Regions from separate parts of the Homo sapiens genome. Here region 1 is linked to region 2. Evidence: fine-mapped expression QTL. A gene starts in region 2. The other region holds a variant in brackets. All regions are shown on one strand. Distances are between the middles of the regions.

The links.
Region 1: its variant is fine-mapped to the expression of LINC01099 in prefrontal cortex (CommonMind, PIP 0.95).

What each region holds. Positions count from the first base shown.
Region 1 is chr4:178,230,084-178,238,438 of GRCh38, forward strand. No RefSeq gene overlaps it. Among named protein-coding and RNA genes, the nearest start is that of LINC01099, 330 kb to the left of the region's middle. The variant C/A (reference allele first, on the strand shown) is at 4,405.
Region 2 is chr4:177,903,233-177,911,587 of GRCh38, forward strand. It overlaps LINC01099 (long intergenic non-protein coding RNA 1099), which reads right to left and starts at 4,704. Exons shown (of 2, transcript NR_108092.1): 1 at 4,512-4,704. All of the region lies in intron 2 of LINC01098 (long intergenic non-protein coding RNA 1098), which reads left to right.

The DNA.
Region 1 (8,355 bases), 330 kb after region 2:
AATCACACTACCTGACTTCAAACTAGAATATAAGGCCATACTCACCAAAATAGCATTGTACTTGTATAAAAATAGGCACATAGGTCAATGGTACAAAATAGAGAACCCAGAAATAAACCCAAATACTTACAGCCAACTGATCTTCAACAAAGCAAACAAAAACATAAAGGGGGGAAAGGACACCAGTTTCATCAAATGGTGCTGGGATAATTGGCTAGCCACATGGAGGAGAATGAAACTAGATCCTCATCTCTCTCACCTTATACAAAAATCAACTCAACATGGATCAAAGGCTTAAATTTAAGACCTGAAACTATAAAAATTCTAGAAGGTAACATAAAAACCCTTCTAGACATTGACTTAGGCAAGGGTTTCATGACCAAGAACCCAAAAGCAAATGAAATAAAAACAAAGATAAACAGTTGGGACTTAATTAAACTAAAGAGCTTTTGCATGGCAAGAGGCACGGTCAGCAGAGTAAATAGACAACCCACAGAGTGGGAGAAAACCTTCACAATGTACACATCTGACAAAGGACTAATATCCAGAATCTACAATGAACTCAAACAAATCAGTAAGAAAAAAACAAACAATCTCATCAAAAAGTGGGCTAAGGACATGAATAGACAATTCTCAAAAGAAGATATACAAATTACCAAAAAACATGAAAAAATGTTCAACATAACTAATGATCAGGGAAATGCAAATCAAAACCACAATACGATACCACTTTACTCCTCCAAGAACAGCCATAATAAAAAAAAATGAAAAACCAGTAGATGTTGGCGTGTATGCAGTGATCAGGGAACACTTCTACTCTGCTGGTGGGAATGTAAACTAGTACAGCTGCTATGGGAAACTGTGTGGAGATTCCTTGAAGAACTAAAAGTAGAACTACCATTTGATCCAGCAATCCCACTACTGGGTATCTACCCAGAGGAAAAGAAGTCATTATTCAAAAAAAAAAAAAAAAACTTGTACATGCATGTTTATAGCAGCACAACTTGCAATTCCAAAATCATGGAACTGAGAGGTGAAGGCAGCGGGGCTTCTGGGTCAGGTGAGGACTTGGAGAACTTTTCTGTCTAGCTAAAGGATTGTAAATGCACCAATCAGCGCTCTGTGTCTAGCTAAATGCTTGTAAACGCACCAATCAGCACTCTGTCAAAACGGACCAATCAGCACTCTGTAAAATGGACCAATCAGCTCTCTGTAAAATGGACCAATCAGCAGGATGTGGGTGGGGCCAAATAAGGGAATAAAAGCTGGCCACCTGAGCCAGCAGCAGCAACCCACCCAGGTCCCCTTCCATCCTGTGGAAGCTGTGTTCTTTCACTCTTCGCAATAAATCTTGCTGCTGCTCACTCTGGGTCCGTACTACCTTTATGAGCTGTAACACTCACTGTGAAGGTCTGTGGCTTCACTCCTGAAGTCAGCAAGACCACGAACCCACTAGAAGGAAGAAACTCAGGACACATCTGAACATCTGAAGGAACAAACTCCAGACACACCATCTTTAAGAACTGTAACACTCACTGTGAGGGTCTGTGGCTTCATTCTTGAAGTCAGTGAGACAAAAAACCCACCAGAGGAACCAATTCCAGACACAGAACCAACCTAAATGACCATCAATCAATGAATGGATGGATGAAGAAACTCATATATATATATATATATATATATATGTAGATGAGATACATATGATGGAATACTACTCATCCATAAAAAGGAATCAATTAAGGGCGTTTGCATCCACCTGGATGAATTGGAAACTATTATTCTAAGTGAAGTAACTCAGGAATGGAAAACTAAACATTGTATGTTCTCACTGATACGTGGGAGCTAAGCTATGAGAATGCAAAGGCATAAGAATGTTACAGTGGACTTTGGGGACTTGTGGGGAAAGGATGGGAGGAGAGGCGAGTGATAAAAGACTACAGATAGGGTGCAGTGCATACTGCTTAGGTGATGGGTGCCCCAAAATCTCACAAGTCACCACTAAAGAACTTATGTAATCAAATATCACCTTTACCCCAATAACTTATGGAAAAATTTTAAAAAATAGAAACAGATAAATAATGGAATAAGTAAAGCCAGGTTTGCATAATTTTTAAGCTATATTGTTAAGTACTTTTGACACAATAGACCTAGGGAAAGAGCCAAAGTCTTCTGGAATATGCAGCATTTCTCCAATACTTACTAAGCAAAGCAAAGAATTTTTCTTCAGATGTATTTATTATTTATTAGAAAGGAGTATTTCAAGTTCTCATTGTGTGTTTCCAGTTTAAGATTTTCACGTCTCATCATTTTTGTGTGTTTTATTTTTCTCTTGTCTTTTGAATCTGCTTTGTGGAAATGTTCTCAAAATTTTCTTCTGCATTACTGATATGGTTTTCTACAAAATAAACTCTGAGTTCAATTAAAATGTTAATTTTGTTACTGCACTTTAAGGTTATAAGCATCTAATGTTATTGTCTTTTAATATTGGCACATTTACCCTATGTGGTTTTCTGCTATGATTTTATGAAAGCCATATTATTTTTCACCTACCAGATGCTAAACACTTTTCTAAGGTATTTTTCATTTTTTGTATTTACAAAGGTTCAAATAATTCAAAGAAAATGCATTTTTTACTACCATATCTATATGCAGCAGATAAGAGGATGGAACTTAGTTTTAACATTTGCTTGCTTCATTAACATAATTAATAACAATTTTATTTCTTGCTTTAGATGTAATATTAAATTATTTATGTTCTTATGTAAATTATTCTTAGAAATATATATTTTATCCAAATTGATGTAAGAATTTCTATCTGTTCATTAAAAAATGGACTTTGTGAGTCTTGCTCTAAAAGTAGTTCTCACTATAGTGTATTGTTTAAGCTACAAAGGCAAAGCACAACTGAGAATATAAAATTTCTGATTAATACAGAACCATACTAAGAACCAAGGTGATAATGAAGTTGAATTTAAGAATTATGTAGATATACTATTACTATCAACCGAAAGTAGTAGGATAGTTACACAATTTAGTTCCAAAATGTGTGCAAGTTCAACTAGAGGTATTACAAAAAGAATGTCAATACTTCTCATGTAATCTTGACTACTTTATATAAGAGAAACAATAATGCAGGATTTCACTTTCACATGCCTGCAGAGGGTGATTAAGAATTAAACTGTTAAGAAAAAAAAAGCGAAGGGGGCAGGGGGAATTGGTGGTAAAAATGAAACTGCCAATTGCATTCAAACTAATTAAAAACAAAATACACAAAAATGACGAAACAAATCAGTCTGAAGGATAGATCACACAAGTTTTTCTTTTTTTTATGGTCCAATGTATATACTAAGTGAATAACTTTGGCTTTTGTTATCCTAACATAGCTATTGATTTTATTTTGGCTTATTTCCTTGACATTTTATTTTTATTTATTTATTAATTTATTTTGTTTTATTTTACTGTAAGTTCTGGAATACATGTACAGAATGTGCACATTTGTTACATAGGTATATGTGTGCCATGGTGGTTTGCTGCACCTAACTACCCATTATCTAGGTTTTAAGCCCCACATGCATTAGCTATTTGTCCTGATGCTCTCCCTCCCCTCCCTCCACCACAGGCCCCGATGTGTGATGTTCCCCTCCTTGTGTCCATGTGTTCTCATGGTTGAAATTCCACCTGTGAGTGAGAACATGCAGTGTTTGGTTTTCTGCTCCTGTGTTAATTTGCTGAGAATGATGGTTTCCAGCTTCACCCATGTTTCTGCAAAGGACATGATCTTTTTATGGCTGCATAATATTCCATGGTGTATATGTACCACATGTTCTTTATCCAGTCTATCACTGGATAAACCAATCATTTTGGTTGGTTCCAAGTCTTTGCTATTGCAAACAGTTCTGCAATAAATATACATGTGCATGTGTCTTTGTGGTAGAATGATTTACATTTCTTTGAGTATATACCTAGTAATGGGATTGCTAGGTGAATTGGTATTTCTGGTTCTAAATCTTTGAGGAATTGCCACACTGTCTTCCACAATGGTTGAATTAATTTATATTCCCACCAACAGTGTAAAAACATTCCCATTTCTCAACAGCCTCCTCAGCATCTATTTTTTCTTGACTTTTTAATGATTGCCATTCTGACTAGAATGAGATGGTATCTCATTGTGGTTTTGATTTGCATTTCTATAATGACTAATGATGTTGAGATTTTTTTCATATGTTTCTTGGCCACATAAATGTCTTCTTTTGAGAAGTGTCTGTTCATATTCTTAGCCTACTTTTTGATGGGGTTGTTTGATTCTTTCTTATAAAAAATTTGTTTAAGTACCTTGTAGATTCTGGATATTAGACCTTCATCAGATGGGTAGATTGCAAACATTTTCTCCCATTCTGTAGTTTG[C/A]GTGTTCACTCTGATGATGGTTTTTTATTTTTTTTCTGTGCAGAAGCTCTTTAATTAGATTCCATTTGTCTAGTTTGCTATTGTTGAAATAGCTTTTGGCATTTTTGTCATGAAATATGTGCCCATATTCTGAATGTTCTGTATGCCCATATTCTGTATGTTCTGAATGGTACTGCATAGATTTTCTTCTAGGATTTTTATAGTTTGAGGTTTTACATTTATGTCTTTAATCCACCTTGAGTTAATTTTTGTATAAGGTGTAAGGAAGGGGTCCAGTTTCTGTTTTCTGCATATGGCTTGCCAGTTTTCCCAGTACCATTTATTAAATAGGAAATCCTTTCCCCATTGCATGTTTTTGTCAGCTTTGTCAAAGATCAGATGTTTATAGATGTATGGTATTATTTCTGAGGTCTCTGTTCTGGTCCATTGGCCTATGTATCTGTTTTGGTACCAGTACCATGCTGTTTGGTTACTGTAGCCTTGTAGTATAGTTTGAAGTCAAGTAGTATGATGCCTCCAGCTTTGTTCTTTTGCTTAGGGTTGTCTTTTTTGGTTCTGTATGAAATTTAAAGCAGGTTTTTCTAATTCTGTGCAGAATATCAATGGTAGTTTGATAGGAATTGCATTGAATCTATAAATTACTTTGGGCAGCATGACCATTTTCATGTTACTGATTCTTCCTTTCCATGAGAATGAAATGTTTTTCCATTTGTTTGTGTCGTATCTTGTTTCCTTGAGAAGTGGCTTGTAGTTCTCCTTGAAGAGGTCCTTCACATCCCTTGTAAGCTGTATTCCTACATATTTTTTTCTCTCTGTAGCAATTGTGAATGGGAATTCATTCATGATTTGGCTCTTTGCTTGTCTTTTGTTGGTGTATAGGAATGCTTATGATTTTTGCACATTGGTTTTGTATCCTGAGAGGTTGCTGAAATTGCTTACAGCTTAAGGAGTTTTGGGGCTGACACGATGGGGTTTTCTAAATATAGAATCTTGTCATCTACAAACAGAGACAGTTAGACTTTCTCTCTTCCTATTTGAATATGCTTTATTTCTTTCTCTTTCCTGATTGCCCTGGCCAGAACTTCCAATACTAGGTTGAATAGGACTGGTAAGAAGGAGCATCCTTGTCTTGTGTTAGTTTTCAGAGGGAATGCTTCCAGCTTTTGCCCATTCAGTATGATGTTGGTTGTGTGTTTGTCATAAATAGCTCTTATTATTTTGAGATATGTTCCATCAATTCCTAGTATATTGAGAGTTTCTAACATGAAGGAATGTTGAATTTTATCAAAAGCCTTTTCTGCATCTATTGAGATAATGATGTGCTTTTTGTCATTGGTTCTGTTTATGAGATTATTGGGAAACCCGCCCCTGATAATTCAACATTATTTCACGTAAGTTCTTTTCTATTTCCCTAAGTGTCAGCCTGTCTGAGAAATAATGGAAAAGAGTACAAAAGAGAGAAATTTTAAAGCTGGGTATCTGGGGGAGACATCATATGTCAGCAGGTTCCATGATGCCCCCCAAGCCACAAAATCAGCAAGTTTTTATTAGTGATTTTCAAAAGGGGAGAGAGTGTACAAATAGGGTGTGGGTCATAGAGATCACATGCTTCACAAAGTAGTAAAATATTACAAGGCAAATAGAGGCAGGGCGAGATCACAGGACCAGGGCGAAATTAAAATTGCTAATGAAGTTTCGTGCACGCATTGTCATTGATAACATCTTATCAGGAGACAGGGTTTGAGAGCGGACAACTGGTCTGACCAAAATTTATTAGGCAGGAATTTCCTCATCCTAATAGTCCTGGGAGCGCTATGGGAGACCAGGGCTTATTTCATCGCTTATCTACAACCATAAAAGACAGACATTCCCAGAGTGGCCATTTCAGAGACCTACCCCTAGGAACGCATTCTCTTTCTCAGGGCTGTTTCTCGCTGAGAAAAAGAATTCAGCGATATTTCTCCTATTTGCTTTTGAAAGAAGAGAAATATGGCTCTGTTCCACCCGGCTCTCAGGCAGCCAGACCTAATGGTTATCTCCCTTGTTCCCTGAACGTCGCTGTTATCATGTTCTTTTTTCAAGGTTCCCAGATTTCATGTTGTTAAAACAATCTGTGCAGTTAACGCAGTCATCACAGGTTCCTGAGGTGACATACATCCTCAGTTTAAGAAGATGATGGGGTTAAGAGATTAAAGTAAAGACAGGCGTAGGAAATCACAAGAATATTGATTGGGGAAGTGATACATGTCCATGAAATCCTCAAAATTTATGTTCAGAGATTGCAGTAAAGACAGGCATAAGAAATTATAAAAGTATTAACTTGGGGAACTAATAAATGTCCATGAAATCTTCACAATTTATGTTCTGCTGCCATGGCTTCAGTGGGTCCCTCCATTCAGTGTCCCTGACTTCCCGCAACATGAGATGGATTACATTTATTGATTTGCATATGTTGAACCAGCCTTGCATCCCAAGGATGAAGCTGACTGGTTCATAGTGGATAAGCTTTTTGATGTGCTGCTGGATTTGGTTTGCCAGTATTTTATTGAGGATTTTTGCATCGATATTCATTAGGGATATTGGCCTGAAATTTTATTTTTTTGTTGTTTCTCTGACAGGTTTTGGTATCAGGATGAAGCTGCTCTCATAAAATGAGTTAGGGGAGTCCCTTCTTTTCAATTGTTTTGAATAGTTTCAGAAGGAATGGTATCAGCTCCTCTTTGTATTTCTGGTAGAATTCAGCTGAGAATTCATCTGGTCCTGGGCTTTTTTTGATTTGTAGGCTGTTAATTACTGCCTCAATTTCAGAACCAGTTTTGCATACCTATTTGTGACTAATGAGTAAAATAATCTCTAGCTAGAAAAATCATTGACCAGCAATTAATGTAATCTGAAACTGATTTTGCTGTCAGTCAGATGTATTTTATGACTATGTAAAATTATAGTTTTCATGAAGAGACATGAAGAAAATATCATTGTTTAATGATTCTAGAATCACTGGCCATGCAGTTTAGTAAATACAGAATATCAGCATTAAGAGTAGAAAGAAAATGGATAATGTTGTGGATAATCATCTTATGACTGATTAGAGCACAGAATTTCATTGACATGGCTCTACCTTTTACTACTGTAAGGAAAACGCTTTACTAAAGGACAGACATTATAACTACACAACATATTTAATAAGGCTCATTGATATTATTAATGTAGGAATACCTAAATGTCAAAAGAATAAAGTTGTTTCAATCTTATTGGAATGATTGGAAACATTGCAATAAAACAAAATATAAGACATTTTTCCTCTTCGCAAATTCCATTCCAAGCCTTTAATAAAGAGAAACTCAATTACAAAAAATATGAGTATGATAGTCTAGGGCAGCTTTATAGGCTTTATTTAGACAACATTATTTGTTGGCAGCCTCGACGGAGGTAGTAATTACTAGTGAGAAAAGCAAACACACAACAAAGAAAGATGGATCCATCTGAAGCATGAAAGTAAAGCTATTGTTTCTTTTATGAAAGGACAGTTAAAATTCTGCTGTGTTAAATTCTGCCATGTTAAAATTCTGCCATGTTAAAAAATTCTGCCATGGTAAAATTCAAATGAATGACCTTTTGCAATATATTGGAAACAAAAATACATTAATAAATATAGAAAACTGGGATGAGTTTGATTTTCTAATTGTAGAAAAAAACGAAAACAAAAACTTTAGACCTAGGCTATAATGTGAACTCCCAAAGTTTTACAAGAATTAAAATCTTCCAGGGTGTGGTCTCTAAACACATTAGAATGAATGTGAAAAATTAACAAAACATAGTAGCTCTAATACAAACTAGAAAACCTAGAAGAAATAAACTCCCAGAAACATATAATCTCCCAATATTAAACCAGGAAGAAATTGAATCCCAGAACAGACCAATAATGAGTTCTGAAATTGAATCTGTAATAAA
Region 2 (8,355 bases):
CTAGTCAACTACCTTTTTAATTTTAGTGATAATTTGTTCATTTGAGGTATTACGTGGCACCCAATAATTAAGTAGTGAAAATAAAATACCATAGCAACAAAATTAGGTTAAAAAATGTTTAAAAATTGAAGTGTTTGCCTAAACTTGTAGAGAAAGGTATCATCTTTACAAACTTTTTGAGTCATTTTTTTCTTTCAGTTTACTGACAGTTAAATATCATAGTTGCCTCCATTGTAAGTATCATATCATTATACATACTTTTTGGAAGGGGTATTTCTGAAGCTCTATGGTAATAAATTGCATGTTTTGTGATCATGTCCACTTGATATGTTCATAAAAGTTACAGATACTCTTGCCATAAATACATTTAAATATCAAATTTTATACATACACAGAAAATTGTGTATACATTTTCAGTGAGTTCACATATCTAACTAAATTATACTTAAATAAAAGTACAGCTTGGGCTGGGCACAGTGGCTCACGCTTGTAATCCCAGCACTTTGGGAGGCCGAGGCGGGCGGATCACCTGAGGTCAGGAGTTCGAAAACAGCCTTAACATGGAGAAACCCTGTCTCTACTAAAAATACAAAATTAGCCGGGCGTGGTGGTGCATGCCTGTAATCCCAGCTACTCGGGAGACAAAGGCAGGAGAACTGCTTGAACCTGGGTGGCGGAGGTTGCGGTGAGCCGAGATCGCGCCATTGCACTCCAGCCTGGGCAACAAGAGAAAAACTCCGTCTCAAGAAAAAAAAAAAAGTAGAGCTTGGACAAGAATTAAACTTTGACTACCAATTATTCAACTACTCATTGTTCTGTAGCACATTTACTCAATTAAATAAACTACAAGAGTGTAATTTAATAGATATAATTTTTTCTTTTAGGAATAATCTCTATATATTTTCTCTATATAATTACAGAAGTAATTATTGTTTTATTAAAGTATTTTCAACATTTATGAAAAATATTAATGCATATTGACATGGTAGAAAAGTTATGTTTTGTTGCATTATTTAAAAAATTAAATTATTTTCTCTATTTTGGGGCATACAATTTATAGATGCCTAAAAATGTTGCACGTTTAAAAAAAAGACAAAGGTTATTGAATAAGTGGAAAACCAAAACACAGATCCATTAGACATATAGTAAATAAACATCTTATAGCTTTTACATCAACAGAAATTACAATTGTGCTGCTTTTCTGTTAGATGGGGACAGATTTCTATGGCATACTTGCTACATTTTCACCTAACATTTTCTTTGATCAATATTCATCATTTAATAGAATACTTTACGTGAATCTTCACTTTATTATACTGTTCTTTTACCAAGTTATTAGCACTTTGGAAGAATAGTGTTGTTAATTTTGCTTTCGGAATCTCCTACAATTAGAGAACATAGCATAACTCTTTTTACAGGTTAATCAACCAAAACGTTATCTAGGTAAGATCAGTTATGAAATTAGGACTGTACATTCCTGAATTCAAATCCAATGACTAGCCCACCGTATTTCTACCATGATTCTTAGCAATAATAACATAAAGACTTCATTAAAACACATAAAAAGACAAATGAAAAAACACACCAAAGAAGCCCCAACACCATCAAAAGGAGGTTGGTTAATTCTGATTGATAGGTTCAAACAGCCTTTGCACACAATTTTCCCAAATAAAAAAGTCCAAAGTCTTTAAGACTTGCAAAGCCCTTGATTGCTTCTCTGGTATCCTTGTCATTAACCCCTTCTTTTCCACCATCCGCACTAACATTTTACTCTGCGGTTATAGTTGTTTTTAGGTTTCAAAAGTTTAATGTTTGTTATCTCTTTCTATTGCTTTCCCAATATTACTCTTCTCTTACCCATAAAGTAGCAATAAACTCACTGTATTTTGTGTTTTTCATTTTCTTCATAACTCCTACAAACTACATACTGAGTGAAGGAGAAACCATGTCACTTTTGCTTGTCATTGTATCTCCAATGTTCAGAACAGTAATGGGTATATATTTGTTGAATAAATAACATAAACATACTGCTAGTGAGTCTGATATTTCCAATCTAGAGCATTAATATAGCTATGTAAATAAGTTTCCCTCATTGATTTCAGTGCCTTTATATTTAGAAACTACAACGATTCTGCTAGAGAGAAAAAAAATTACTTGTACTAAAACACACATTTTCATAGAAATTCTCTAGGATCCTCTCTCAGAAAAACATCTATTAAACATTGGATGCTATTTTCCATTAATGCTATTTTAGGAGTGATAGACTTTAGAAAAATTTCTAGAGTAACAGAACATATTATTATATGTAGTAGCCTCTACATTATTTAAGTATTTGATACAACTGATAGAACAATTTGAATATCATGTTTAAGAGGGTTTAAATGTCTATTCATATAATGTTCTAATGCTAAAGGCTAAGAAGATCTGGTTGCTAAACCAACTGAGAGCAGTATTATCTTGAAATATATATCAGTTTTATAGCAGCATAAGGTCAGACTCTAGCTATGATAACTTTTTCTCTAGTGATCCATTGAGGGCAGTGTAAGGGTTTTATGATGATATCTTCATTCTCCGTCAATCACTCCATTTTAAACCTAGATCTTTGGATATTTGCTAACAAGATTTCTTTACAATTAGAATCACACTTTAAGATTCTGTTGTGACAAATATCTTAAATATAAATATTTGTAGGATAGTACTCTTGTAATCTAATGTGGTTTTGTACCCGAAGTCTTCTAAATAACTTAATTTTCTATGTAACCATAGTATTAATATAACAACTCTGTACTACAGTAATAGCCTTTTAAAAATATTCAAAATATTTCATGCCTGTAGAGGGAACAAATAAAAATATATTCAAATTAATATCCTGTTGTGATCATTGTAATGAACATACTTAAACCTTTGCTTCATGACTCAGGTTCATCATTTTGCTTAGTGATTTTACTTTTCTCTAGAGTATGTGTAAGTGCTGTGAACTCAGCATAATCTTGGGTTTATCTCTTCCTAAATAAATTTCACCTACAGCCATGATTTAATTAATGTGCCACCACATTATTATTATTGTGTGTGTGTGTGTGTGTGTGTATGTCTGGGGGAATTGCCTTTTCTAAAAACAGTGTAATGCACATTCTTTAACTCTAACAAAACTGGTCTCCATATATAAAGAATACAACATCGGTGGTATTCTGAAGAAAGGCTAGAGCAGTATAGTCAAAATGCAATGCAGGATACATTGAAGTGTCCAAAGAATAAGGCAGGTGGGGCATCTTTATGAAACTGTTACCAATCAGAAGATGAGCACAGAGTGGAGTCTGTGTCAGAGAGGTAGTCCTGAAACAGGGCTTTAAATGTTGTGGTTAAGAAGATAATATGTATCTCAACATTTCAAAATCAGGTTTACATAAGCTACTAAATATTCACCAGGGACAGTTTATCCTTAAACCATAAATCTATGCCAAGTATAGTTCATAAAACTGCTATAGGGAAGTTCTCATTTGTCTCCACAATGTATTCTGAGAAACCTTACTGTACAGCAGATTGTTATAAAAATTTTATATTTTCTCATAGGAACAATGTTATAATTTGATGTTATATGGTAGACCAAGCATTTAATAAATCATAGACATGACTGAAAATATGTCTGAAAGTAACATACAACTACGAATTTGTGCAATAATTTTAAATGATAAAATTATGCTTGGTGTTCTGTTCAATGAACATAAATGTACTATATACTCTGATAATTCACAGGCCCCAGTGAATCATAAAATGAAAGCAGAATATATAAAAATACAATTCTGCTACATTATAAATTTGACCTATCATAAGATTAATTTAATTTTCCTCTGTGATTTTGTATATTGTTTTCTCTAAGGACCTCCTCATTCTATTACTACACCCCCATACACAACTGAAATAGTTCCTATATTCAATGTAAATTTTAATACTCAAATCCATCCCACTTACAGTATGATTAAATGTTGAAACTGAGAAGCATCTCAGACCAAAGTGTGGAAAAGATCAGATGGTTATTTGGAAACCCTATTTCTAAATGGTAGAGGGTGTGCCTGAGCTACTACTGACATACGTTTGTATGGATGTTTTGTTTGTTTTTGTTTTGTTGTATTTTTGGAAGTCAATTGTATAAAGGAAAAAAATTACTCTTTGAGCAATTAAAAAACACGTGGAAGAATCTCCATAACTCTTTCTCTCTGTTATGTTCAAGGAGGTGTCATTTCAGATACTGTGCAAATGTATTTATTCCAGGCCTTAAGTATATTTCTTTAAAATTTTGGTCAATATGCTCTTACTGTTTTTTTTAGCTGTTTTTATCTACAGTATCTTCAGTATTTTCTGACATCAGCTATTCCCAGTCTCTTATATCTTTAATTTTATCTTGCTGAGGCAATTTGGCTAATAAGCATGTTCAAATTTCACCTGTGTCCCAATGTAAACACACACACATACACACAGAAAAACAACAACAAAAAAATTTTAAGAACTCTTACCTTTTCCCAGACATCAGTTTCTGTGTTTATAACAAACCTTCAAAGGATGTCTGTGCACGCTGCCGCTGCCTCTGCTTCCCATTCTCATGACGGTGGAGCTTCCTCCCCTCTGCTTTCTGGCTTTCTCAAATGTTTTTTAAAGTAAGTAGCTGACAAAGTCAATCAGCCTTTGCCATTCCTCCTCTTTTTCTCCTCTGGAACATGTGACACTGTCAACACTTCCTGGAAATCCTGCACTCTCTCACGATGTGCTCTTGTACTCCTCCTGCTTTTACTGCTGTCTTCTCAGCTTTTTCCTACTCCCTAACACAGTTTTTGCTCTAATATTCTGCACTTGTTTATCTTTTCCAGCACAGTTATCTTCACCAATCTTATTTATGCACAGCGTTTTTCGTTTCTTCACAGAGAAAGTTTCCCAATTGTCCATCCGTTTGCTGACTTCTCCAGGACTCACATTCCGTAATACCTGCTGGGAATTCTGAGCTGGTTATCTCCCCAGAAGTTTTCTGCCCTAGATAAGCTACTTGCTTTCTTCCCGTTTTATCAGTTTCAAACCTAACTGCTCTCTAAAATTCAGGTGCGATATCAACCCGGCTGTGAAATACCCCAGTTTCAATAAATGCTCCTTCACTTGTGCTGCTTTCTACCTACATTTAGAACCTCTCACATCTATTCTTACATTTGTTTACTAAATGTGTTCTTATCACTACAACAGTATTTTCAAATTTACTGAAGGAAAAGAAACAATTCCGAAACAGCAAAGTTATTAAATATTCAGTTAGAAACTATTTTGGTAATATGCATATCTATATCTATATCTATATCTATATCTATATCTATATCTATATCTGTGTGTGTGTCTCTCTCTCTCTCTGTGTGTGTGTGTGTGTGTGTGTGTGTGTGTGTGTTAAAAGTTAGACTTATTTCCAGGATTTTTTTATTAGAATTTGTGAAAATGCTAACAGTGTTAAAATACAGTGACCTTAAAAGCTAACAATATGACAAGGTTGGCTTCATTTTTAGAAGTAGGTACACTGTCTCCAAAGGGTTTTATTTACTACAGATATTTGGTCTGTATATTTAGTGCTGAATTGTATGATTCTAAACATTAAAATGTAAGCAGCACATTTAACATAAAAAGGAAACCAGCTCTAGGTGAGATACATGTGTCACAGAGATTCTCAGTTATTAATGTTGCTACAAAATTTCCATTCTAATAGCACCACAAGAATCCAGGTATGCATAAGGCAGTCTCCATTAAGAATCAGTAGCAATCTTATGTTGCAAAACATAGGGTGTCTTTAGTTTTAATATGTTAATTTTTATCTCAATTCTGTGATATCACTTCAGTGTGGAGAAAACTGAAAAAATACACATCAGGTTCACTGCTGATTAAAAGCTTTTATTTACATTTTTACCTGATTTTTCATTCTAACCTAATATGCTAATTCATTAAATAAACTTCATATTATCATATTGTGAATTATTATCAGTAGCCCAGATGGAATCTTCATGTGAATTCAAGATAAAGGCATCCTATCTCAATATGCTTTACTTCCAACTGTCATACTGATTTCGTTGGAACATACATGTCATTGCTATCTATCAAATAATTGTTGCAACAAATATATAAATACATTATATTTGTGAATGAATGGCAGCTCCTTAAACTGTGGCATGCTTGTGTAATACACGACCCCCACAACAGTGTGTGCTGTGTGTACAGGCCATGGACTGTGCTACGGTTTGCAGATTAAATGTCCCTGAGCTTCAGTTACCTAATTTCTTAAATGAGAATGGCACCTATCTCATGACTTTTTGTAAGCATATGGAAAGGTATTACAACGTGAAGTATAAAATCATTATTCAATAAATCTGTTTTCTGTGTGTGTGTTATTTTTTAACCTATACTTCAGAACACACTGAAGATTACTTTCTCTAAGAATGGTGTCCTGATGCTCTCGGCCAGGGGTCAGTACGTTTTTTTCCTATAAGCTACCACATAGTAAATACATTAGGCTTTGCAGGCCGTCTGTTCTCTGTTACGACTACTCAACCATTGTGTTATAAAAGAAGCTGTAGATAAGACAGCATGCAAATGAATGATCGTGATTGTGTTCTAATAAAATTTAATTTACACACACAAACAAAAATAGACTGTATGATTTGGTCCACAGGTTATAGTTACTGACTCGTCATGCCAGCCCACACTATCTCATTTTCAATTTTCAATTTTTAGGCTTTGATTCAGAAAAAAAGTTTCAAAGTAAGGAACATTAATTTTCTCTTAAATCTCAGTTTGTGCCTATATTAAGGCTGAAGTTAGAGAAAGCTTATTTGCTGAAGGCCTCTTTTTCTTGACTGTATGTATCTCTGAAGTTTTTTACTTTCCTTTTTCCTTTTCTCTTTTTCTTGACTGTATGTATCTCTGAAGTTTTTTATTTTCCTTTTTCCTTTTCTCTTGTCTAAACTGATGTTTTTCTTCCCTTCTTTTGGGAAGAAAATACTTTTTTTTTCTATTGACGTTCATTATTTAGGCATTATTCCATTTTTTTTCACTTTTTTTCTCATAAGTATATGTTTATAAATCTACTTTATGTAAGCAACTTTATTTTCTAAAGTTATATACTTTTTTAATTAAATAAAATGCTCAAGGCAGCCTTTCTCATATTCTGGGGTGCCCAGCATCTATGTCATACCTTTTGTGGCCTTTCAAAATTCCTATATTCTGATAGTCTATCTCCTTATGAATTTTTGCTCAAGTGAAATTATCAACCCTATTAATGGTCAGAGCTATTGTTCTACAAGTCACCATTAACTCGAGTTTGAGGCCTGAAGCAATCTGTGAAAGAAGGCCTTGGAACAATGCAGTTGTTCTACCGTGTATCACAGAAAAGCTAATTTAGCTTTCATAATGAAAACAAGTATCAGTGTCCTGAAGTTTCCCAGCCCTGGGCAGGGATGCGTATTCAACTCCATCAATGTGAAAATAAAAGTTATTTTGCTATTTTTAATAGCGTCTATTACTCAAAGAGTATTTACTGCTTCTTATTCTTCCTTCAGAGCTGGTTTATTTATTTCAGTCTTATTCTTGCTATAGAGAATCTAACTAACTTTTTTTTAAAAAAGAAAACTGAAGTCAAACCAATAATCTTCAAAGACATATGAAACTACTGTATGCCAAGCAGTGTGGCATCAAGTACAACCTATTTTAAAAGTTAAGAAGAAACATAATGAAAGATTTGAATGTACCACCTACACTATATTATTGATTATGTTAACCCAAAGTACATACTATGTAGCTAGTTAAGTATTACAACTTTGTTTTAAAAGAAAAGGGTCAGGCGCGGTGGCTCACGCCTGTAGTCCCAGCACTTTGGGAGGCCGAGGTGGGTGGATCATGAGGTCAGGAGATCGAGACCATCCTGGCTAACACGGTGAAACCCCATCTCTACTAAAAATACAAAAAAAAAAAATTAGCCGGGTGTGGTGGCGGGTGCCTGTAGTCCCAGCTATTCAGGAGGCTGAGGCAGGAGAATGGTGTGTACCCGGGAGGCGGAGCTTGCAGTGAGCCGAGATTGTGCCACTGCACTCTAGCCTAGGTGACAAAGCAAGACTCCATCTCAAAAAAAAAAAAAAAAAAGGCAATACACTAAATATGAATTTAAGTAAAATTCAAAGCAGAATATTCTTTTATTAGAATTTCCACCAATACACTCAAAGGAATTCAAAGACTCATGACCACAAAACAAGTTTGCATTAATTATCACGGTGTGATATCAGTATTTTTAAATATATACATGCCCACTTATGATAGGGTTATGTTCCAGTAAACCCAAGCTAA